3 separate regions of the Homo sapiens genome follow, and all the other regions are linked to region 3. Evidence: fine-mapped QTL for protein levels in blood plasma. A gene starts in region 3. Each other region holds a variant in brackets. All regions are shown on one strand. Distances are between the middles of the regions.

Evidence for each region. A credible set is the group of variants that fine-mapping cannot tell apart. PIP is the chance, under the fine-mapping model, that this variant and not a neighbour inherited with it causes the effect. Protein levels are from antibody-based Olink assays in UK Biobank. Linkage for the fine-mapping came from a reference panel and not from the study's own genotypes, which makes the PIPs less certain.
Region 1: its variant is the best candidate, but not a certain one, in a credible set for the plasma level of the GZMH protein (UK Biobank, PIP 0.89).
Region 2: its variant is the best candidate, but not a certain one, in a credible set for the plasma level of the GZMH protein (UK Biobank, PIP 0.74).

The regions. Positions count from the first base shown.
Region 1 is chr14:24,616,067-24,624,073 of GRCh38, forward strand. No RefSeq gene overlaps it. Among named protein-coding and RNA genes, the nearest start is that of GZMH, 10 kb to the left of the region's middle. The variant C/T (reference allele first, on the strand shown) is at 4,345.
Region 2 is chr14:24,668,189-24,676,195 of GRCh38, forward strand. No RefSeq gene overlaps it. Among named protein-coding and RNA genes, the nearest start is that of GZMB, 38 kb to the left of the region's middle. RefSeq lists enhancers at 4,853-4,902, 5,142-6,341, 5,233-5,282, 6,603-6,652. The variant G/A (reference allele first, on the strand shown) is at 4,759.
Region 3 is chr14:24,605,814-24,613,820 of GRCh38, forward strand. GZMH (granzyme H) reads right to left here and starts at 3,872. Exons shown (of 5, transcript NM_033423.5): 1 at 3,746-3,872; 2 at 2,452-2,599; 3 at 1,799-1,934; 4 at 1,336-1,593; 5 at 667-933. The coding sequence starts at 3,800. The coding sequence ends at 790. RefSeq lists an enhancer at 1-453.

The DNA of each region.
Region 1 (8,007 bases), 10 kb after region 3:
AATTATGCAAGGTAGGTATTGATACTATCTCTATTTTTACATGAAAAAGTTGTGATCAAGAGAAGTTAAGTAACTTGCTCAATCTCACACTGTGAGGAGGGAGTAGCCAGGGTTTGAGCATCATAGCTTGATTCCAGAGCATCTGATATTAACCACTACACCACTAAATTCCATGGAATCTGGAAAAAAAGAGGGTCAAAGATTTTTCTACAGCTCTTATGGGGTCCTTTTCTGTGTGAGACTCACAGATACTGGAGATGAGATTCCTTGGCTCTGTTGGAGGACACAAAAACACTAGTGATTAGATAAGGATGGTGAAGGCCATGCTTAGAGGAATGGAAAGAATGATGTGGAGAAATGCAGAAGAAGGTGTGCTTCAGCACTAAAGATTTTAGTCATTTAAAACAATAACAATATTTACCTTGCCCACGAGCCTGCAATTTGGATCAGGGTTGGTGTTGATAGCTTGTCACTGCTCCCCTCCATGTCAGCAGGGGCAACTTGAAGCCTGGAGGCTGGAATCATTTGAAGGTTCACTCACTCACAGGTTCAGCAGTAGTTGCTGGGAGCTTCATGTCTTCTTCATGGCGGCCTCCCTATGTTGCTTCACTGCATGGTATTGTTTCTCACCACTTGGTGGCTGGGTTTCCCAGAGTGATCATCCTCCCAAAAAGTGAGCCAGGCAGAAGCTGTGTCCTTTTTGTTACCTAGACTTTGAAGTCATATGGTATCCATTCTACAACATTCCATTGCTTGGAGCAATCTAAAGCCCCCACCCAGATTTAAAAGAAAGGGACATAGACTTTGCCTCTCAGTGAGAGGAGTGTTGAAGTCATGTAAGGAGAGCTGCTGGGATGGGAGATGTGCAGTGGCAGTCATTACAGAAAGTACAATCTGCCACATTGCGTTAGGTGCATGAAGGATTCGTCAGAGAAGAGTTGAAGCTACTTTGATTGGTATAAGCCTTGGGCATAGCTTTTGGATAGACTGAGATCTGCTTTGTCTAAACTTTATATACTATGAATGGAAGGAGGGTTAGTTTTCCAGGAAGACAATCTCTTTAGTGAATTACTAATTCCATGTGAACTAAAAACTGATGCCAGGGAGCCAAATAGTATCCTCACATTTCTGTCTAGGACACATTTCTGATATCCTTGTACAATAGTCTTCCTTTATCTGCAGTTTCAATTTCTGCAGTTTTGGTTACCCATGGTCAACAGTGCTCTGAAAACAGTAAGATATTTTAAGAGAGAAACCAGATTTACATAACGTTTATTAGAATATATTGTTATAATTGTTCTAGTTTTTTTATTTTACTTTAAGTTCTGGGATACATGTGCTGAACGTGCAGGTTTGTTGCATAGGTATACATGTGCCATGGTGGTTTGCCACACCTATCAACCCATCATCTAGGTTTTAAGCCCTGCATGCATTAGGTATTTGTCCTAATGCTCTCCCTCCTCTTGCCCCCCACCCCCCAATAGGCCCCAGTGTGTAATGTTCCCCTCCTTGTGTCCATGTGTTCTCATTGTTTAACTCCCACTTACGAGTGAGAACATGTGGTGTTTGGTTTTCTGTTCCTGTGTTAGTTTGCTGAGAATGATGGTTTCCAGCTTCATCCATGTCCCTGCAAAGGACATGAACTCATTCTCTTTTATGGTTGCATAGTATTCCATGGTGTATATGTGCCACATTTTCTTTATCCAGTCTATCATTGATGGGCATTTGGGTTGGTTCCAAGTCTTTGCTATTGTAAATACTGCTGCAATAAACATACATGTACATGTATCTTTATAGTAGAATGATTTCTAATCCTTTGGGTCTATACCCAGTAATGGGATTGCTGGGTCAAATGGTATTTCTTGTTCTAGATCCTTGAGGAGTCACCACACTGTCTTCCACAATGGTTGACCTAATTTACACTCCCACCAACAGTGTAAAAGCATTCCTATTTCTCCTCATCCTCATCAGCATCTGTTGTTTTCTGACTTTTTAATGATCACCATTTTAACTGGTGTGAGATGGTATCCCATTTGGTTTTGATTTGCATTTCTCTAATGACCAGTGATGATGAGTTTTTTTTTCACATTTTCATTAGCTGCATAAATGTCTTCTTTTGGGAAGTGTCTGTTCACATCCTTTGCTCATTTTTGATGGGGTTGTTTTTTTCTTGTAAATTTGTTTAAGTTCTGTGTAGATTCTGGATATTAGCCCTTTGTCAGATGGATGGATTGCAAAATTTTTCTCCCATTCTGTAGGTTGTCTGTTCACTCTGATGATAGTTTCTTTTGCTGTGCAGGAGCGCTTTAGTTTAATTAGATCCCATTTGTCAAATTTGGGTTTTATTGCCATTGCTTTTGGTGTTTTAGTCATAAAGTCTTTGCCCATGCCTATGTCCTGAATGGTATTGCCTAGGTTTTCTTCTAGGGTTTTAATGCTTTTAGGTTTTATGTTTAAGTCTTTAACCCATCTTGAATTAATTTTTGTATAAGGTGTAAGGAAGGGGGGTCCAGTTTCAGTTTTCTGCATATGACTAGCCAGTTTTCCTAGCACTATTTATTAAATAGGGGATCCTTTCCCATTTCTTGTTTTTGTCAGGTTTGTCAGATGGTTGTAGATGTGTGGTGTTATTTCTGAGGCCTCTGTTCTGTTCCATTAGTCTATGTATCTGTTTTGATCTGTTTTGCTACCAGTACCATGCTGTTTTGGCTACTGTAGCCTTGTAGTATAGTTTGAAGTCAGGTAGCGTGATGCCTCCAGCTTTGTTCTTTTTGCTTAGGATTGTCTTGGCTATATGGGCTCTGTTTTGGTTCTATATGAAATTTAAAGTAGTTTTTTCTAGTTCTGTGAGGAAAGTCTACCATTGACTTTCCTGGTGTCTTGTTGGTAGCTTGATGGGAATAGCATTGAATCTATAAATTACTTCGGGTACTATGGCCATTTTCATGATATTGATTTTTCCTATCTATGAGCATGGAATTTTATTCCATTTGTTTGTGTCCTCTCTTATTTCCTTGAGCAATGGTTTGTAGTTCTCCTTGAAGAGGTCCTTCACATCCTTTGTAAGTTGTATTCCTAGGTATTTTATTTTCTTTGTAGCAATTGTGAATAGGAGTTCACTCATGATTTGACTCTTGGCTTGACTACTGTTGGTGTACAGGAATGCTTGTGATTTTTGCACATTTATTTTGTATCCTGAAACTTTGCTAAAGTTGATCAGCTTAAGGAGTTTTTGGGCTGAGATGATGGGGTTTTCTAAATATACAATCATGTCATCTGCAAACAGACAATTTGACTTCCTTTCTTCATATTTGAATATGCTTTATTTCTTTATCTTGCCTGATTGCCCTGGCTAGAACTTCCAATACTGTGTTGAATAGGAGTGGTGAGAGAGGGCATCTGTGTCTTGTGCCAGTTTTCAAAGGGAATGCTTCCAGCTTTTGCCCATTCAGTATGATATTGGCTATAGGTTTGTTATAAATAGCTCTTATGATTTTGAGATATGTATCATCAATACCTAGTTCATTGAGAGATTTTAGCGTGAAGGGTTGTTGAATTTTATCGAAGGCCTTTTCTGCATCTATTGAGATAATCATGTGGTTTTTGTCATTGGTTCTGTTTACATGATGGATTAGGTTTATTGATTTACATATATTGAACCAGCCTTGCATCCCAGGAATGAAGCCAACTTGATCGTGATGGAGAAGCTTTTTGATGTGCTGCTGGATTTGGTTTGCCAGTATTTTATTGAGGATTTTTGCATCTATGTTCATCAGTGGTATTGGTCTGAAAAATTTTTTTTTTGTTATGTCTCTGTCAGGTTTTGGAATGAGGATAATGCTGGCTTCATAAAATGAGTTAGGGAGGAGTCCCTCTTTTTCTATTGATTGGAACAGTTTCAGAAGGAATGGTACCAGCTCCTCTTTGTACCTCTGGTAGAAATCAGCCGTGAATCCATCTGGTCCTGGGCCTTTTTCGCTTGGTAGGCTATTAATTACTGCCTCATTTTCAGAATTTGTTATTGGCCTATTCAGGGATTCGACTTCTTCCTGGTTTAGTCTTGGGAGCATGTATGTGTCCGGGAATTTAACCATTTCTACTAGATTTTCTAGTTTATTGGCATAGAAGTGTTTATAGTAGGCCGGGCGCGGTGGCTCACGCCTGTAATCCCAGCACTTTGGGAGGCCGACGCGGGCGGATCACGAGGTCAGGAGATCGAGACCATCCCGGCTAAAACGGTGAAACCCCGTCTCTACTAAAAATACAAAAAATTAGCCGGGCGTAGTGGCGGGCGCCTGTAGTCCCAGCTACTTGGGAGGCTGAGGCAGGAGAATGGCGTGAACC[C/T]GGGAGGCGGAGCTTGCAGTGAGCCGAGATCCCGCCACTGCACTCCAGCCTGGGCGACAGAGCGAGACTCCGTCTCAAAAAGAAAAAAAAAAAAAAGAAGTATTTATAGTATTATCTGATGGCAGTTTGTATTTATATGGGATCAGTGGTGATATCCCGTTTATCTTTTTTTATTGGGTCTATTTGATTCTTCTCTCTTTTCTCCTCTATTAATCTGGCTAGTGGTCTATTTTTTTGATCTTTTCAAAAAACCAGCCCCTGGATTCATTGATTTTTTGAAGGGTTTTTCGTGTCTCTCTCTCCTTTAGTTTCACTCTGATCTTAGTTCTTTCTTGTCTTTTGTTAGCTTTTGAATGTGTTTGCTCTTGGTTATCTAGTTCTTTTAATTGTGATGTTAGGGTGTCGATTTTAGATCTTTCTTGCTTTCTGATATGGGCATTTAGTGCTATAAATTTCCCTCTTAACACTGCTTTAGCTGTGCCCCAGATATTCTGGTATGTTGTTTCTTTGTTCTCATTGGTTTTAAAAAGCTTCTTTATTTCTGCCTTAATTTCGTTATTTTCCCAGTAGTCATTCAGGAGCGGGTTGTTCAGTTTCCATGGAGTTGCATGGTTTTGAGTGAGTTTCTTAATCCTGAGTTCTAATTTGATTGCACTGTGGTCTGAGAGACTGTTTTTTATGATTTCCTTTCTTTTGCATTTGCTGAGGAGTGTTTTACTTCCAATTATGTGTTTGATTTTAGAATAAGTATGATGTGGTGATGAGAAGAATGTATATTCTGTTGATTTGGGGTGAAGAGTTCTGTAGATGTTCATTAGGTCTGCTTGGTCCAGAGCTGAGTTCAAGTCCCAAATATCCTTGTTAATTTTCTATCTTGTTGATCTGTCTAATATTGACAGTGGGGTGTTAAAGTCTCCCACTATTATTGTGTGGGAGTCTAAGTCTCTTTGTAGGTCTCTAAGGACTTGCTTTATGAATCTGGATGCTCCTGTATTGGGTGCATATATATTTAGGATAGTTAGCTCTTCTTGTTGAATTGATCCCTTTACCAATATGTAATGGCCTTCTTTGTCTTTTTTGATCTTTGTTGGTTTAAAGTCTGTTTTATCAGAGACCAAGATTGCAACCCCTGCTTTTTTTTTTTTTGCTTTCCATTTGCCTGGTAAATATTCCTCCATCTCTTTATTTTGAGCCTATGTGTGTCTTTACACCGTGAGATGAATCTCCTGAATAAAGCACACCAATGGGTCTTGACTCTTTATCCAATTTGCCAGTCTGTGCGTTTTAATTGGGGCATTTAGCCCATTTACATTTAAGGTTGGTATTTTTATGTGTGAATTTGATCCTGTCATCATTATGCTAACTGGTTATTTTGCACATTAGTTGATGCAGTTTCTTCATAATGTCATTGGTCTTTATATTTTGGTGTGTTTTTGCAGTGGCTGGTACTGGTTTTTCTTTTCCATATTTAGTGCTTCCTTCAGGAGATCTTGTAAGACATGGCTGGTGGTGACAAAATCTCTCAGCATTTGCTTGTCTGTAAAGGATTTTATTTCTCTTTCGCTTATGAAAATTTATTTGGCTGAATATGAAATTCTGGGTTGAAAATTCTTTTCTTTAAGAATGTTGAATATTGGTCCCCACTCTCTTATGGCTTGTGGGGTTTCTGCAGACAGATCCGCTGTTAGTCTGATGGGCTTCCCTTTGTAGGTAACCTGACCTTTCTCTCTGGCTGCCTTAACATTTTTTCGTTCATTTCAACCTTGGAAAATCTGACAATTATGTGTCTTGTGCTTGCCCTTCTTGAGGAGTATCTTAGTGGTGTTCTCTGTATTTTGTGAATTTGAATGTTGGCCTTTCTTGCCAGGTTGGGGAAGTTCTCCTGATTAATACCCTGAAGTGTGTTTTCCAGCTTGGTTCCATTCTCTCCATCACTTTCAGGGACCCTAATCAATCATAGGCTTGGTCTTTTCACATAGTACCATATTTCTTGGAGGCTTTGTTCTTTCCTTTTTAATTTTTTTCTCTAATCTTGTCTTCACACAGTATTTCAGTAGGTTGATCTTCAGTCTCTCATATCCTTTCTTCTGCTTGATTGATTCTGCTATTGATACTTGTGTTAGCGTCACGTTCTCATGGTGTATTTTTCAGCTCCATCAGGTCTTTTATGTTCTTCTCTAAACTGGTTATTCTAGTTAGCAATTAGTCTAATCTTTTTTCAAGTTTCTTAGTTTCCTTGCATTGGGTTAGAATATGATCCTTTAGCTCAGAGGAATTTGTTATTACCCACTTTCTGAAGCCTACTTCTGTCAATTTGTGAAACTCATTCTCCGTCCAGCTTTGTACCCTTGCTGGAGAGGAACTGTGATCATTTGAAGGAGAAGAAGCATTCTGGTTTTTGAAATTTTTAGCATTTTTGCACTGCTTTTTCCTCATCTTCATGGATTTACTTTCGATGGGATTTTTTTTTTATATGTGTGTGGGGGTCCTTTTTGTTGATGTTGATGTTATTGCTGTTTGTTAGCTTTTCTTCTCACAGTCAGGCCTCTCTCTGCAGGTCTGCTGCAGTTTGCTGGAGGTCCACTCCAGACTCTATGTACCTGGATATCACCAGCGGAAGCTGCAGAATAGCAAAGATTGCTTCCTGGTCCTTCCTCTGGAAGCTTCATCCCAGAGGGGCACTGGCCTGATGTCAGCTGGAGCTCTCCTGTATGAGGTATCTGTCAACTCCTGTTGGGAGATCTCTCCCCGTCAGGAAGCATGTGGATCAGGGATTCACTTGAGAAGGCAGTCTGTCCCTTAGCAGAGCTCGAGTGCTGTGCTGGGAGAACTCTCTTTGTCAGGATCTGCTGCTCTCTTCAGAACCAGCAGGCAGGAATGTTTAAGTCCGCTGAGGCTGTGCCCACAGCCACCCCTTCCCCCAGTTGCTCTGTCCCAAGGAGATTGGAGTTTTATCTATAAGCCCCTGACTGGGGCTGCTGCCTTTCTTTCAGAGATGCCCTGCCCAGTGAAGAGGAATCTAGAGAGGCAGTCTGGCCACAGCCACTTTGCCAAACTGTGGTGAGTTCTGCCCAGTCCAACCTTCCTGGCCTCCTAAGCACTGTCAGGGGAAAACCGCCTACTCAAACCTCAGTAATGGTGGACACCCCTTACTCCACCAAGCTCGATCTTCCTAGGTGGATTTCAGACTGCTGTGCTGGCAGTGAGAATTTCAAGCCAGTGGTTCTTAGCTTGCTGGGCTCTGTGGGAGTGGGACCCACTGAACATGACCACTTGGCTCCCTGGCTTCAGCCCCCTTTCCAGGGGAGTGAACGGTTCTGTCTCACTGGGGTTCCAGGTGCCACTGGGGTACAAAAACAAAAACAAAAACAAAAAACTCCTGCAGCTAGCTTGGTGTCTGCCCAAATAGCTGCCCAGTTTTGTGCTTGAAACCCAGGGTCCTGGTTGTGTAGGCACACAAGGGAATCTCCTGGTCTGCGGATTGCAAAAACCATGGGAAAAGTGTAGTATCTGGACTGGATAGCACAGTCCCTCACAGCTTCTCTTGGCTGGGAAATGGAGGCCCCCCACTCCTTGCACTTTCTGGGTGAGGCAACGCCCCACCCTGCTTCTGCTCACCCTTCATGGACTGCACCCACACCTAACAAGTCCCAATGAGATGAA
Region 2 (8,007 bases), 62 kb after region 3:
TAATCCTAGATTCTGGGTTTGGAAGTTTGTGAAAGACTATTGGGAAAGGAAAAAGGAAGGATAAAGTTTGAGGGGGAAAGCAATGTGACTTGAAGATTCAGGAGGTGGGGAGGGGTTTTCCTTAGCCTAGAAAAAGATATCCCTTGCCTGGGGGTTGGGTGAAGGCTGTGCATTCTGAGACCTCTGAGACTTTCTCAAGCTCTTTGGAGGCAGAGACAGATAAGAGCCAGATTTCATGGAAGTGGCAGAAAAAATGGAGCACTGGGCTTAGGGCTATTAGCTTCCATTGAAATTCCTGTCATCCTAATGGGTGTGAACACTGCAGAGAGTCACAGAATGGTAGGAGACTCTGCTCAGAGAGAACAAACGTGTTATCAGTAAACCTCCTGGATTGATGGCATGTGACCAGGGAGAGAACTTGCCAGCCCGTCAGCCTTGGTGTTAAGACCCTGGAACTATTACTTGTCCTTAGGTTGAAGTAAGTCTCAAGAATGGCTAACTAAAGTTAAATTCCTTGCCAGCTCAAATGCATGGCATGCTTGAGTCAAAATTACATCAATTTATAGAAAATAAAAGATGTGTTATATTTCAAATTTTGTAATTTTAGACTTTACACATGTATGTTGATAAGTTTGAGTGCCATATTTTATACAAATGCAATGCTTATTTGTGAAAAGATAACTGAACAACCTAACAGAATCTACAAACTAATAAAAAGTTCAACAGGGTTGCTAGATACAAGATAATTATCAGCATCAATTAAGTTCTAGACACTTACAAAAATTATGACATATAATTTTAAAAAGAATTTTATTTACAGTAGAAACAAAGTCTCTAAGGTATCTAAAAATAAGTAATAGGTACCTGAGGCTTTTATGGAGAAAGTTATTTTTAAAAAAGAAAAGTAAACAGGGAAACATACTTAATCTCTGGATGAGAAGACTCAACATTTTTAAAGATGTCGATTCTCCCAAAATTAATTGACATGTGATACCATTCTCATCAAAAGCCCAATAGGGGTTTTCAAGGAAATTATGTTGTTTTTAAAATTTGACTAGAAAACCAAAAGGCCTAGAATAACCCAGAAAAAAATTAGAGTAGAAAAATATGGGAGCTTACCTTACTAAATACGAATATTTGTTACAAGACTACAGTTATTAGGACAATGCAGCATTTATACAGAAATTAAAAAAAAAACTAGTAGAAGAAAGTAGAAAGTTCAGAAATTGACCTCCTCATCTATGAACTCAATATACTACAAAGCATGAGGAACTAATAGGGAAAAAAATGGAGCCTGATCAGTGGTGCTGGATGATTCATTATTCATGTGGGGGAAAAATTAAGTTACACCTTTAATTTACACCATTACCAAATAGAAGTTAAAGACAGTTATAGACCTGAATGTAAGAAACAAATGTTTATAAGTTTAAAAGAAAAGATAGAATATCCTATGACTTTAGGGTGTAGATAGAGTATCCTATGACTTCAGGGTAGAGAAGTTTCCTTAACTAAACACAAAAAGCACAGACCACAAAAGAAAATGTTAATATATTAACATTTAAGTGAAAAAGATCTGCACACTAAAAGAAACCATAAAGAAAGTTAAAAGACATGAATTCCAGAGCAATCTATTCCCATGAAGCATGTTCTTTTGGCAAGACATAGGTTTGGCAACAGATTTACTCAAGTTTGAATATTAGCTTGACCGTTTACTAACTTTGTGACTTAAGACCAAGTTATTTGAACTCTTGAGCTGTTTCCACATACATTAAAAAATGTCAGCACACAGGACTGCTAAAATGATTAAATGAGATAAGGTATGTGAAATACCATGCCCAGAGCTTGGCACATGGTAGGTACCAACCATAAACCAATTTAATGGTGTGGTTTTACCCAGGTAAATGCTGGTGAACTTTACATCTTCATTGTGAGCCAAATACATAAAGCTGACCTAGTTCGCAGATTTTAACCCTATAATTTCCCCTGCACATGCCAGCCATTTAGAAATAGTGGAACAACTCTTATGTCCCCCTTAATTATTTTATTTTTTTAAAGAGGGCTGTCTTTAATTTTCGATTTATCTTCTGAGATTATTTCAAATCTTCTTATCCATGTCAAATTTTATCTTCACTTCTTATTGACCCAATGGATGTTAACCATCTTCATACTCCGGAACATTCTTTATGGTAACCTAAGTGTAGCCTGTTATTTAGAATAGGAAACCATCATCAAACTGGTTTATTCTGCAGGCACTAGTCATGTATGAAACCACCTAACTTAGTACCTGGAACAAAATTGATGCTTAATAAACTTGTGTGGAATATAAGTCATCATAATGTTAAAGATTCTATTAAAAATTATAAATATTTCAACATTTAAAACATGGAGAAAATAGTGCCATAATACCCATGCACTCATCATCCAGATTAAACAGTTGTCAAGGCTTACTATATTTTAAAAAAAATGCTACTTTAAGTATTGCACACTGAAATCTGTTCTGAGTCAAACATTAGAAAAGATTTGGAAAAAAGTATGACCTGGTATTACCTCAGCCATGGCATCACATCCCTTCTTGTGACACATCAGTCATGGGTGGGCTCTCCAATAGGCTCACCACAAACACCTGGGATCGAATGCCAGGAAAGGTGAGGGAGGACCCTTCTTCACACTTCAGGCACACAGAAATGAAAGTTGAAGAAGAGGTGACTGTGGTTGATTGTTCCAGTAATGTGCAAATCATAGGTCAGGTCTTTTAAATACTATTCTGTCATATCAAATGAATCCAACCATATTACAGCAAAGGCTTTTCTGGAAGGTGAAAAATTTACATGCCATACTCCACTTTAATTAAAAACAATGAATGAATGTAAAGTCCACATCGACACGGAAATTTTTCCTGGAAAAATGACAGGGTTTCTCCACTGGGGCCTATACTCCACTTCATTTGTGTTAGGAAACTCTGAGGAGAACCCACACCCACATGTGTAGATTGAGTTTCCATTATCCACCTGATGATTCTCAAATATAGAGGTCCAGTCCAGAATTCTCTCCCTAGCTCCAGATTGATAATCCTAATTGACTTCTGGCACCTTCAGTTGGATTCTCCATGGACATATCAAACTCAAGGTACAAAACTGGGCTAATTATTTCCTCTCCCTTTCCAAATGGAACCTTCTGGAACACCTCAGTATTCTTGGGTTTAACTTTCATAAACTACTCCTACTTTTAGAAAATTGAAGTAAAATCTACATGACATAAAATTAACCATTTTAAAGTGCACAGTTCAGTAGCATTTAGTACATTCATACTGTTTTGAAATCATTATCTCAAGACATTTTCATCACCCCAAAAGGAAACTTCCATACCCATGAAACAATCACACTCCATTCCTCCATTTCCCCCAGCCCCCGAAAAACACAATGTATATCTATGGATTTATCTGTTCTAGATATTTAATATAAATGGAGTCATGTAATATGCAACCCTTTGTGTTTGTCTTCTTTAACTCAATGTAATGTCTTCAAGGTTCACCCATGTTGTAGCATGAATCAGTACTTCATTCCTTTTTAAGGCTGAATAATATTCTACTGTATAGATATATCACATTTTATTATCTATTCATCAGTTGATAGATATTACCCACTTTTTAGCTATTGTGTATAGTGCTGCTAATGTTGAGCAACTGTCAAACTCTTCATCATTTTACATTTACATTCTACCTTTTATATTCCTGCAGCAACGTACAAGGATTCTAATTTCTCCACATTCTTGCCAACACTTGCTTTCCTTTAAAACATTAATTTTTATTTTAGCTATCCTAGTAGGTATGAAATGGTATCTCATTGTGGTTCTGATTCCTGTTTCCCTAATGTCTAATGATATTGAACCTCCCTCTCCCTATCTGCTCATGTCTAGTCTTGTGACATTAGGAAGAGGCAAATTTATAGCTCATTTTAGAAACATAACTGAAGTTTGAGGCAATGCATTCTTGGATACCAACCTTAATCCTGGCTTCATTTATATTAGCACCCTTACTTCCCCTTTATTTTTAACTCTTCATTTAAAATTTTTATTTATTATGTGGTACAAAATTTTTGCAAGCTGCCTTTTTTATTTTTTAAAATCTAGAGTATAAGTAAATTTAAAAGTCCCATGTCATTTACCTCTTATCCTTTTTTAAAAAGCAAAACAAAACAACTTTTATTGTTTTCTTTAAACACACATAAACTAAATGTTTATTTTGGAAATTTACAAATTGGACTCAACACGTAAAAAAGTAAAAAGAGTAAAATAAAAATCTTCTATAAACACACCACTAACCATGGTTAGTATTTTGGCATTATTTTTTCAGTCTTTACCTATATACCTATATATCATCTCTCTAGTCACACTACTTTTTAAAAATGAGATTATATTATACATTCTTTTTTCATAACATACTATTTTCATCTAACAATATATCATGATCATTTTACCTCATAATTAACTATGCTGCCATGGTTGTAAATTTTTAAACTTTGATTTGCATTATCACTGGAGTTACCTATTAAAATAAAGATTCCAAGTCTACTCCCAGTGCTTCTGACTCCGTCATTGGGATCCACATCCAGAAATCTGTATTTTTTACAGGCTTCTGAGCGATTCTAATATGGGCCATCTTGGGCTCTTTGAGATTACTTCCACACTACTAATTTCAACTATTGCTGAATTTTTCATTGTGTGGATACAGCACTATTTATTCAACCAGTTACTTATTTG[G/A]GGTCATTTAGATTATTGGTATTTTTCATTATTTTATTCATCTGCTGAAAAAATCCTTATTCCTACAACTTTGCTGTCATCCATGACTGAGCATTTGTTGCTTATACCCAAACTGTGTGGTATGTTACAGTGATGGGGCTTGGTGAGTGCTCTTCTCATCATTGAATGGGGATTGAGATGCAGATGCTGGAGAAAGCCTCTCAAAAAGCCACATCAGGCCCTGAAATGTGATTGAGAGGACTTAGGGTTTCACAGGAGAAGTGGAAAGGGGAAGCAGCTCAGTGTGTGAGGAAGTGAGATTCAAATTCCGTGTGCTTGAACCTGGAAGCCAAAAGAGCTTATACACCTGGGGCCCAGCCAGCAGTCGCTTATTTCTCTAGAAACTAAGAGAGGGACTAAAATACTCCCTTTTGTTGAAAATTTCAAAGTGGGGGCATCAGCCTTGGGTCAAAAAGAAGGAATAATGGGAGGAGAGAGAGCAGAATGAGACAGCACAGCTTTCTGTCCCAGCACAGCTCATGAAAGAGAGGCCATGCAAAATGAAAGCATTCTTTGCACTAAAAATTTCTGAGAGACACCAAGGCACAAATAGAGTTGCTTTGGTGTTGAAATGTCAAAAGAGGTGTAGCCACCATTTAGGGATGTGACACATTGAGGTTTGGATGCTTTAAAGAACTTCAAAGAAAACGCAGCATCTTTTTGGGTCTTGATGGCCGGTGCCCTTTCAAAGAACATTAGAGAAGATGATGGCTCAGTGGTGTCACCACAGATAGTGCTGAAGTGCTTTGATGTAGCTTTGCGGGCTGTATCAGTCTCAGCAGGAAGAAGGATGAGTCAATGTCGAAGAAAGGAAAACCTAGTTCCGGGGACTGGCCAAGGACTTGCGTGTGAGAACTTGCGATGCATCTCCTTTGAGGGACTTTCAGGAATTATGTGGAAGGAGGGAAAAGGTGAGGATGTGAGTAGTGTACCTGGAATCCCAAAATTCTACATTAGGAATGGAGACAAAAGGCAGAAAAATTCAGGTCACTCATGGACCAGAGCTACAAGGGAAGTGCCCACCTAAGAAGTTGTAGAGGGCGGTGTGTGCTGGAAAGGATTGCTCATGTCCATGTGGGGTGTGTGATTACAGGAGTGGGTGAGGGAAAGGGTATCCTCTGAATCATTTATCAGAAGCCCCTCAGGGGCGACCAGAACCCCTAGGTTATTTCTTAGCAAACTCAGCCTCTTTTCTCATTTTGAGGTGGGTGAGGAAAACTAATTTTCCTCTCCGCCCCCATTTCTCCTGCTCCCCACCCTAAGCTCACTGAGAGTGAATGTTTGCCCCTGAAATAGAATCAGTTCTAAGAAAACTCCCTCGACATCCTGCTCCATGTCAAAATAAAATATGACTGTGGGTGGGGGAATGGAAAGAGGGGTGGTCGGGGGCTGAGGTCATTGCTGAGGATGGGCTGTCCTTGTGCAAAAGGAGCTTATGGAGTGGCCCCATGGAAGAAGCAGGTACATGCTGTAAGTAAAGCACAAAATCTCTAGGTGTCTGGGTTGGTCCCAGCAAAAGCCTAAGAGTGCCCAGAACCGGATGTAGCAGCTTCCTGTTTGCTATTTCACACAACTCTGCAAAGAGCAACAAGGTTTTTCAGCCATATCCAGATTACACTTGTCTACTTGAATTTATTAATTAATCTGGGGAGAATTACCATTTTTAAAACTTTGTGTGTTCCCATCTGTAACATTCAGCAATATTTTTGATTCAAGTGAGAGAAACCTGACATAGCAGTGCAAACAGTAACGGTTTCTGTTTCTTATATGACAACCAGTCTGGAGATGAGCAGTCCAGGGCTGCTGAAGTGACTGTGTAATGTTTCTCATCAGTGTCTTGGACTTCTGTATGTATATGTTGATATTCCCCCTTATGCTTATTGCTTCCTTGCCACAAGATGGTTGCAGCTACTCCAGGCATCAAGTCAGATTTGTATCAGGAACAAGGAAGAAGAAAGAGGGTTGATGCCTCACCCAAAAAGCAAAAGAAAAAATAAAATAACAATAAAATAGAAATGATCTCAGACTTTTGTTTACCTTTTATTGGTCAGAACTTTGTAAAATATTATGCCTATCTGAAAGAAAATTTAGCAAAAATATATTTTATACTCCTCTCTCCCTAAATTTTGAATTTTGTTCACAAAAAAGGTGATGCCAAGGTTTCGTATAGATAACTTGTAGCTCTGCTACACCATCCATCAATATTTTATATCTTTTCAATTTATTAAGTCTTCTTTTATGTTCCTTATAAGCTTTTATTATTTTAATCTGTACATATCTTACATCTCTGTTGGATTTGTTTCTAGACATCCTGTACTTTTATTACTGTTACCTTTAAAAATACATATTTTCATTGGTTGTTGTATAGGAATTGGTTTTTGTATATTGAGCTCATTGAGTATAATTAGTTGTACTAGTTTGTAGATTCTCTTGGGTCATCTATGTAGAGAAGATAGACAGGCATATCATCTATAAACATTACTACTTTATTTTATTTCCCAATCCTTACATTTATTCCCTTTTCTTATCTTATTGATAGGTTGGGACCTCAAATACAAGCCCATTTAGAAGGAAGGCTAGAAAGGTAAAAGTTTCTAAGATTATACCATTTAGATATTTGCTATTTTTTTATTATTTGTTTTTGTAGTTCATGCAAGAGGGGTGGTTTGTATTAGGGTAGTGGCGGTAGAGAAAAATAGAAGTGACTATGTTTGTTGAGGTATTTAGGAAATGGAACCACAGGGACTTGGTGATTGATGCATTTGTGGGGTAAGGAAAAGAATGAAGCCAGTTAAAAAAACATTGTATTTTGACATAATTTCAGGATTACAGAAAAGTTGCAAGAATAAGACAAATAATTTCTGGACACCCCTCACCAAGATTCAAAATGTCAACATTTTCTACATTTCTCACTCTTTCTCTCTCTTTCTTCTTCTTATTATTATACTTTAAGTTTGGGGATACATGTGCAGAACGTGCAGGTTTGTTACATAGGTATACACGTGCCATTGTGGTTTGCCGCACCCATCAACTCGTCATCGACTTTAGGTATTTCTCCTAATGCTATCCCTCCCCTAGCCCCCCACCCCCCAGCAGGCCCTGGTGTATGATGTTCTCCTCCCTGTGTCCATGTGTTCTCATTGTTCAACTCCCATTTATGAGTGGGAACATGCAGTGTTTAGTTTTCTGTTCCTGTGTTAGATTGCTGAG
Region 3 (8,007 bases):
CTGTTAGGGACATGAGAGAGAGGCTGGCTTCAGAACAGGGTGATCTAGAAGGGAAAGAAACTGGTAGCCAGGGCACTTGGGTGAAAAACTCTTGGGAGCTGGGAAGGCCGGCCAGGAAGGAAGAAGGTTGACTGAGCTCAGGGCTGGGCCCAGGGCAGGGAAGAGGGACCTAGGTGCAGAGGAGCATCTCAACCTCCTAAGCTGCAGGCAGACCTGGCTGTGGGAGAAGCCTGCCCCCATTGGAGGGACAGGCCCTGAAAATAGGAAACTGAGTACTCATGGCATGGCCCCTGGCCTTCTGAGTCCCTGGAGTTATTTCCTTTCCACTGCCCTGCTCCATTCTCTGCTACGTTGTTAGGGGAGTAGGTAGTTGGTTTAGAGACGATAAGAAATTCCTAACGTCCAGAGAGGTTTATTTTTTTTTGTGAAGGGAGAGGGGTGAAGATTGTTTGTTTATAATGGAGTTCAAACCAGCTCTAACAGAGGGTTCAGTATCAAAGACATGTGATTGAGAAATTAGTGAAAAAACTGTACAGCATGGGGTTTAGGGAGGAGGGAGGGCTGGGGGAGAAAGGAAGAAGCAAAAGCCAGAACTGACAGCAGACGGCTGCCTGGAGCAGTGTTGTTGCATATTGAAGATGGTTCAGTGAATAAATAAGACTTCAGTCATATTTACACCAGAGATCCATTTATTACAGTCCTGCAACCCCGACTGCCCACCCCTTGGGGATTCTTGCCTCTGTCCCAGAGATGGTCAGGCCCAGAGGAAGGTTAGTCTCATGCCTGCTGTTAGAGGCGCTTCATTGTTCTCTTTATCCAGGGCAGGAAGTGTGAGACCTTGATGTAGACTCCTGGAGGTGTCCCTTTTTTGTTTCCATAGGAGAGAATACCTTGGGCTACGTCCTTACACACGAGGGGCCCCCCGGAGTCCCCCTGTGAACAGAGAGAGGAAAGACTGAGCTAGTGTTCCCTGGGATGGGTGGTCTCTGTTATGGATTTTGTGTGACATCAGTGCCAGGCAGGCCTTGTCACTCACCTCCCTCAGTCCTGGGTCTCCAGCATGGCCCTGGCTGTGCTTTCTGGCTCTCCCCAGACCAAGCCTTTCTCTGCAATTCTCACGGACACTTTGGTGATAAGTGACTGTCGGATGACAGATCCTTCCCCTCCAGCCACCCCAGTCCACCCAAGGAGTGGACTAAAGACTAGATTCCAGGGGGACACAGGCTGCCCAAGCTCTGGGCTGAGAGCATAAAGATCTGGCCACTGTCATACCCCAGAACTCCCTCAAGTTCCTCTCTCCCTGTGGTCTTTCTGGGTAGAGGCTGGAAACCCAACCTTGAAACCGGTCTGTGTCTTCTTTGGATCCCCCACACAAATCTCAGTGGCTCTGCTGTAATTGCCATGGAAGAGACGTTCACACTGGCAGTCCTTCTGCACTGTCAGCAACACTTCCTGCAGTGTGGTTGCTAAAGTGCTCATTGAGACATAACCCCAGCCAGCCACACTGCACAGCTGCCCTGGCTTCACCTGGGCCTTGCTGCTAGGTAGCCTGAGAGGCCGCACAGCTGTGGTCCACTTGGCCTTTCTCTCCAGCTGGTGGGGAAGAAGCAAGAAAGTCCAGGTCAGGCAATGGCCTTCTGGGCCCCGACACAGTGATGGGGCTGCACAATCTTCCCTCTCCTCTAAGGCACAGGAACTGACCAAGAGGTCAGGATGGAAAGGAGGAAAGGGCCGGCATCCCAGTGGGAGTGGAACCAACTGGACCAAGAAGAGCAAGAGTGGCAGGAGTGTGCCTCACCTGCAGTAGCATGATGTCGTTGGAGAAGTTCTTAGGATTATAGGCTGGATGGGGGATGGGTCTTTTCACAGGGATAAACTGCTGGGTCCGCTCCTGTTCCTTGATATTGTGGGCCCCCAAGGTGACATTTATGGAGCTGCACAGAGAGCAGAGTGAGGATGGGGGTGGAGTCACAGGGGATAGAGCCCAGGAGCAGTGAAGAGCAGATGACAGCTGTGGCAGGGTAGGGCTGCAGCTGAGGGGAAGTTGAAGGGACAGGAGGGCTCCAGGGCTGAGTGACTGTGCCCTCTACTTCACAAAGACATGAAGAGTAGGGCTTCTGGGGGCTCTCTCTTGCCTTCAGGAAATATCATGAAATTGCTCGAGTTTGCATTTTGATCCTTAATGCATGGATTCAACCTTTACTACTGCCTTATTGGGCCAGTGTGTGAAACCATGCCACTTGCTCTGACCTCTGACCCTCTGACCCTCTGACCCTGTCCTATTTCTCAGCCTTTCATCATCTTAGTCCTATTCCCAGGTGGCTGCTCCGATGAGCTTTCATGGGCTTGTGTTACCAGGAACTCTGGAAGCTCCCCTGGGCTGCAGTCCCCAGGAGAAAACAAGGGTCCCTGTAGGGGGAACTCAGGAGGTGAGCTGGTGCTGCTCCTTACCTTCCCTGGCAGTGAGCAGCTGTCAGCACAAAGTCCTTTCTCACTAGGATGCCGCCACACCTCTTCCGACTCTTCTCTTGCAGAAACTGAACAAAGGCCATGTAGGGGCGGGAGTGGGGCTTGGCCTCATGGCCCCCGATGATCTCCTCTGAAAGGAAAGACTGGAAGATAAAGTAGCTGGGGATGGCTGCAGTCAGGAGAGAAGGCTTAGGACGACAGTGATTGAGGGTGAAGTGTTTTGTGTGCTGCAGACAGTGAGGGAGGGGTCCTCCTGAGCTCTGCAGGCAGTACTCCTTGCAGGCAGAGCAAGCTTTTCTGAACTTTAAGTCTCAGAACCTTCTCTCAGAAAGAATGGACAGTGCTTGACTTCTGCATCCTACTGCAGAAACACACATGGAGGAAGAAAGATCTATTTTCACAGTGGTAGAGCCCCAGAGGATCCTGGACAGGACTTCCCAGGCTCCTCCTTTTTAGTGAGTCTCTCTGATTCCTCTGAGCCTCTGCTGTCCTCCTGATTGGTGCCATTTTCTAATGATCTACCCATGAGCTTCTGGAGTTGGATTTTCTAAAATTCTCATGTGCCAGGGCTGAACACATTCTAGGTTCTCAGTAAGTGTTGTTTGGTGCATAAATGAATAGCCTCCAATTAGCCTTTGGCTGAGGTTTAGTGGGGGTAGTGCTGGTGGGATTCAGGACCTCAGGGATGTTAGAGGGGGTTATCACCAGGTCAGTGGAGTAGCTGAGGGCCTGCAAAGGCAGAAGGAAGTGGAGAAATCAACTAAAAATGAATCGCAAAGCCCAGGTGGAGCCAAGGTAATGGGAGAGCTATGGACACAGTCATCTTGCCATCTCTGAGATCAGTTGCACCATGGGCTTCCCTCCTGGCAGGGGTGACTGGGTGGGGGCACTGAATAAGTGGTTCTTAAGCTGAGTCCAGTAACAACTCCTATGACTGCAACTTGGTGTCTGAGCTCCTCTTTCCTGGGTTGGAGTGTAGAGTAATAATTACTTATCTTTTTTAGCTTCACATTCCCTACCAAATGCCTTTCTAAGAACAATCCACACTCCAGGTCATAAAGGAGAGGTCTAGGGAGAGGCTAACACCCATTAAACCTTTTAGGGAACACCCTTCATTTTTCGATCTTTGCTGAGTGTCTATCTAGCCTCAGATTTATAAGTCTGGGTGTGGAATGGGAGGTGGGCTCAGATTGAGGAAAATTCCTGACCAGTGCTCATGGGTACAGGGTATCTTATAAGATGGGTTCAGGCCTCTGGAATAGGGATAGTCACTTACCTGTCCCAGCCCCAGGGGTCAGAAGAAAGGCCAACAGGAGGAGGAATGGCTGCATTTTCTCAGGAAGGCTGCCCAGGTCAGAGCTGTTGGTGTTGACTCCTTCCAGAAACAAATGCTGGAGGGAGATGAAGGAGGGATGGGTACAGTAAACTCAGAGACCTCCTAGACTTGTCCCCTTCTGGTTTTGATGGGTGTCATTATAGAAGGTGGTTTATTAAAATTATCTGGTTTGGTTTAAGTTGACATGGCACTGTCACATTTACACCCCTGCTGCTGAGTAACAAGGTGAAAGCAAGAATAAAGAACAAGGAGGTGGAGCTGTTGAAGCTGTGGCTGCAGCTAGCAGAAAGGCTGGTACTGCAGAAGCTCCTCAGTGACTGAGAACCAAGAATGTCTCCTTTTCTCAGTTCTTGGCTCTTTTTCTACTCAGATAAAATCATGAATAATTATTTAGCAAGCCAGATCCAGGGATATGAGAGACATGGCTCTTGCCCTTGAAGAATTGATGGTTAGCAAGAGTAGACTGAAAATCTGGGGTTAGAGCACAAGATGGTAAGGGCCGTGGTGGGGAAATCTGCCTGTTGGTGTGAGACGGAGGCTGGACTTGCCTTAGCAGTATGCAGAGTTGCACACACCCAACAAATACTGCAAATGGCAACCCATTCCTATCTTACCACTATCTCAGATTCATATTTTTGGGATATTTAGAATCCCCTCTTTAAATATAAATATTCTGTGACAAAGATAACTTTTTTTATTCCACAGTTCTGCACAAAAGTTCTGGACTTGATATTTATTGAACCAAAATGAGTCATCATTGGGTCCACTGAAGTGTAGTGGACTGATTGCTTTATGCTTTGGTTATTTAGCCCTCCTTAAGCTGAGGTGGGGACTGTTCCACTCCATCTATGGTGCTTATGAATGAGGAGGGGATTTCCCTTGAGAAATGCTAGTTGTTGTTGCCAGGTGATGGAAAAATGGATGCTGATCATCCTGATAATAATTGTTCACTAAGGCCGGGCGCGGTGGCTCATGCCTGTAATCCTAGCACTTTGGGAGGCCAAGACGGGTGGATCACGAGGTCAGGAGATCGAGACCATCCTGGTTAACATGGTGAAACCCCATCTCTACTAAAAATACAAAAAATTAGCCGGGCGTGGTGGCGGGCTCCTGTAGTTCCAGCTACTTGGGAGGCGGAGGCAGGAGAATGGCGTCAACCCAGGTGGAGCTTGCAGTGAGCTGAGATCGCGCCACTGCACTCCAGCCTGGGTGACAGAGCGAGACTCCATCTCAAAAACAAACAAACAAACAAACAAAAAACTGTCCACTAAGTATTCTCTCAGTTTCCAGAGAGCCATGTCTCTGATGTCCCTTGGCTCACAGTCATAGGCTGTCCATAAACAAAAATGTGTATATATACATATGTTTGTATATTTATGTATATGAATATATATAAATATATATGTATAGTTAAGTAGGAACATGTAAATGATAAAATTAAACTTACCAAAAATTCTACCACCGGAGATCATTATTAATGCTTAAGCATGTTTCCTTCTACTATTTTTCTAGGTATTTATAAGGTGCTATTCCTGCTATTACTTTAACAGAACTGGGATAGGACTTTAGGTGATAGACTTTTTTGTGATGAATTTTCCAGGTGTTCTTTGAGCTTCTTGTATTTGGATGTCTAGGTATCTAGCAAGGACAGGGGAGTTTTCTTCAATTATTTCCTCAAATAAGGTTTTCAAGCTTTTAGATTTCTCTTCTTCCTCAGGAACACCAATTATTCTTAGGTTTGACTGTTTAACATAATCCCACATTTCTTGGAGGCTTTGTTCATTTTTTAAAAATTATTTTTTCTTAGTCTTTGTTTGATTGGGTTAATTTGAAAGCATTGTCTTTGCGCTCTGAAGTTTTTTCTTCCGCTTGTTCTAGTCTAGTGTTGAAACTTTCCAGTGGATTTTGTATTTCTCTAAGCATGGCTTTCATTTCCAGAAGTTGTGATTATTTTTTCTTTATGATATCTATTTCTCTGGGGAATTTTTCACCCATATCCTATATTTATGTATATATATATTTTTTAATTTTTAAAGTTGTTTTTTCACCTTTCTCTGGTATCTCCTTGAGTAGCTTAATGATCTTCTGGATTGTTTATCTGGCAATTCAGAGATTTCTTCTTGGTTTGGATCCATTGCTGGGGAGCTAGTGTGATCTTTTGGAGGTGATATAGAACTCTGTTTTATCATATTACCAGAATTACCTTTCTAGTTCCTTATCATTTGGGTAGACTATTTCAGTGGAAAGGTCTGGAACTCAAGTCCTGCTGTTCAGATTCTATTATCCCATGGGGTGATCCTTTGATGTGGTGCTCTCCCCCTTCCCCTAGGGATGGGACTTTCTGACCACTGGACTGCATTGGCTGTTACTGCTTTTCTGGGTCTAGCCTCCCAGTGGCGCTACCAGGTTCCAGCTGGTGCTGGGGAATGTCTGCAAAGAGTCCTGTGATGTGATCTCTCTTCAGGTCTCCCAGCCATGGATACCATTACCTGCTCTGGTGGAGGTGGAAGGGGAGTGAAGTAGACTCTGTGAGAGTCCTTGGTTGTAGATATGTGTAGTGTGCTGGGTTTCTTGAATGCTGGTTATGCTAGCAGTGAAGTTTTCATGTGGACACACTCAGGACCTCTGTTTAGCCAGGATGTTGCAGGCATTGGAATTAGGTGTTATCTTCTCCTTCCTGGGTTCAGGGTTATTCTGTCATGAGTTGCTGTAATGGCCTGTGTTGTTTGGCCTCCAGCCAAGAAGTGGTGCTTTCAAGAGAGCACCAGCTGCATTGGTAGTAGAGGGATCTAGGTTTGCCCTAAGTTGGCCAGGGTGAGTATTTTGGTTTCTCAGATGATGGGTGGGGCCTGAAAGCTCCCAAGAGTTTCTATCTTTTGTGTTTGGTTACCAGGGTGAGTAAAGAAATACCATCATGTTGGGGCAGGGTTAGGTGGGTCTGGGCTCAGAGTCTCCTTGGGTGGGGTTTGCTGTGGCCACTGTGCGGGATGTGGGGGTGGTTCTTAGGCCAATGGGGTTATTTTCCAGAGGGGATCTTGGCTACCTCTGTTGTGTCATATAATTCACCAGGGAAGTGGCGGAAAGCTGGTAGCGAGAGGTCTCACCCAGCTCCCACACAGTTGGCAAGGCCAGTCTCACTCCCAAAGTGCCCCACTCAGATCTTGCCCAAGGCTGTGAACTTTCCCACTGAGAAAGCAAGCATGGATTTCAGATATCACCCCTCCCCATCTGCCCACTCCAACGGGAGTGGCTTCTTTGCTTCTGAGTTCATGTGCTCATATTGCCAAAGCTCCCACTCGTCCCCTAGACTCCACTAAAGAAAGTTTGTGTCCAATTGAAACCACTACCAATTTCAGTTGGAAGCTTCCTTCACCTGGTGACCCCTCCCCAATTCCACTGGCTGCCTTCCCTGAGAGATCCTGTGAGATATAGTCAGGAATGGCTTCCCTGGGCTCAAGCTGAAGATTGGAAGTGCCTTGCAGTCTTCTGATACTGATACTTCTACTTTTATATTTTGTGTGACTGCCTACATTTGTTTCAGTTCAAGGTAAGGTTAAATTCTCCCTTGATCTGGATTTTCAGATTCCCCAGTGGGGATGTGTGTTCAGAGGCAGGTTTTTTCCCTCTCACACTTTGGGAACTTACAGTTTTTCACCTGTTTTGCAAAATTTGCAGCAGTGTCCTGCTTCTTTCAAAGGGTGTGTGAATTCCTTTGGTTTTCCTGGTGTGTTCCCGTGGTGGTTCTTGGAACAAAAGAACACAGTATGAGTCTTCACATACTGTTGTGTCCATCTAAGTGGGAGTTGCATGTGGGTTTAAAGAAACCTGACTCATGAAGGACTTCCCATTTTTTGTACTGCCATGATCATCAGTGCATTATTACTGTCTCACACTGTTTCTTCATAGTGTCTCTCATCCTTCAGATCTCACCTTTTACTGGTATTATTATGGATCCTAGTAATTTATTTAAAAAACAGCAAAAGCTTAAACTCTCCTCCTTTGAGTCTCATGGGGTTGGAGTGGAGTTGTTGGTTTGGATCCTTGCCCAGGTAGCTTTCAGATCCAGCCCTCATCTTCCTGCTGCTCTTCTCTGTGACACAGTCTACATCACACAGATTTCTCTGTCTGACAGCTCTGTCTTCTTGGACCAAGCCAATGGGTGGTGCTGAAGAATTAGGGTCTTTTTCCTTCCCACTCTTTCT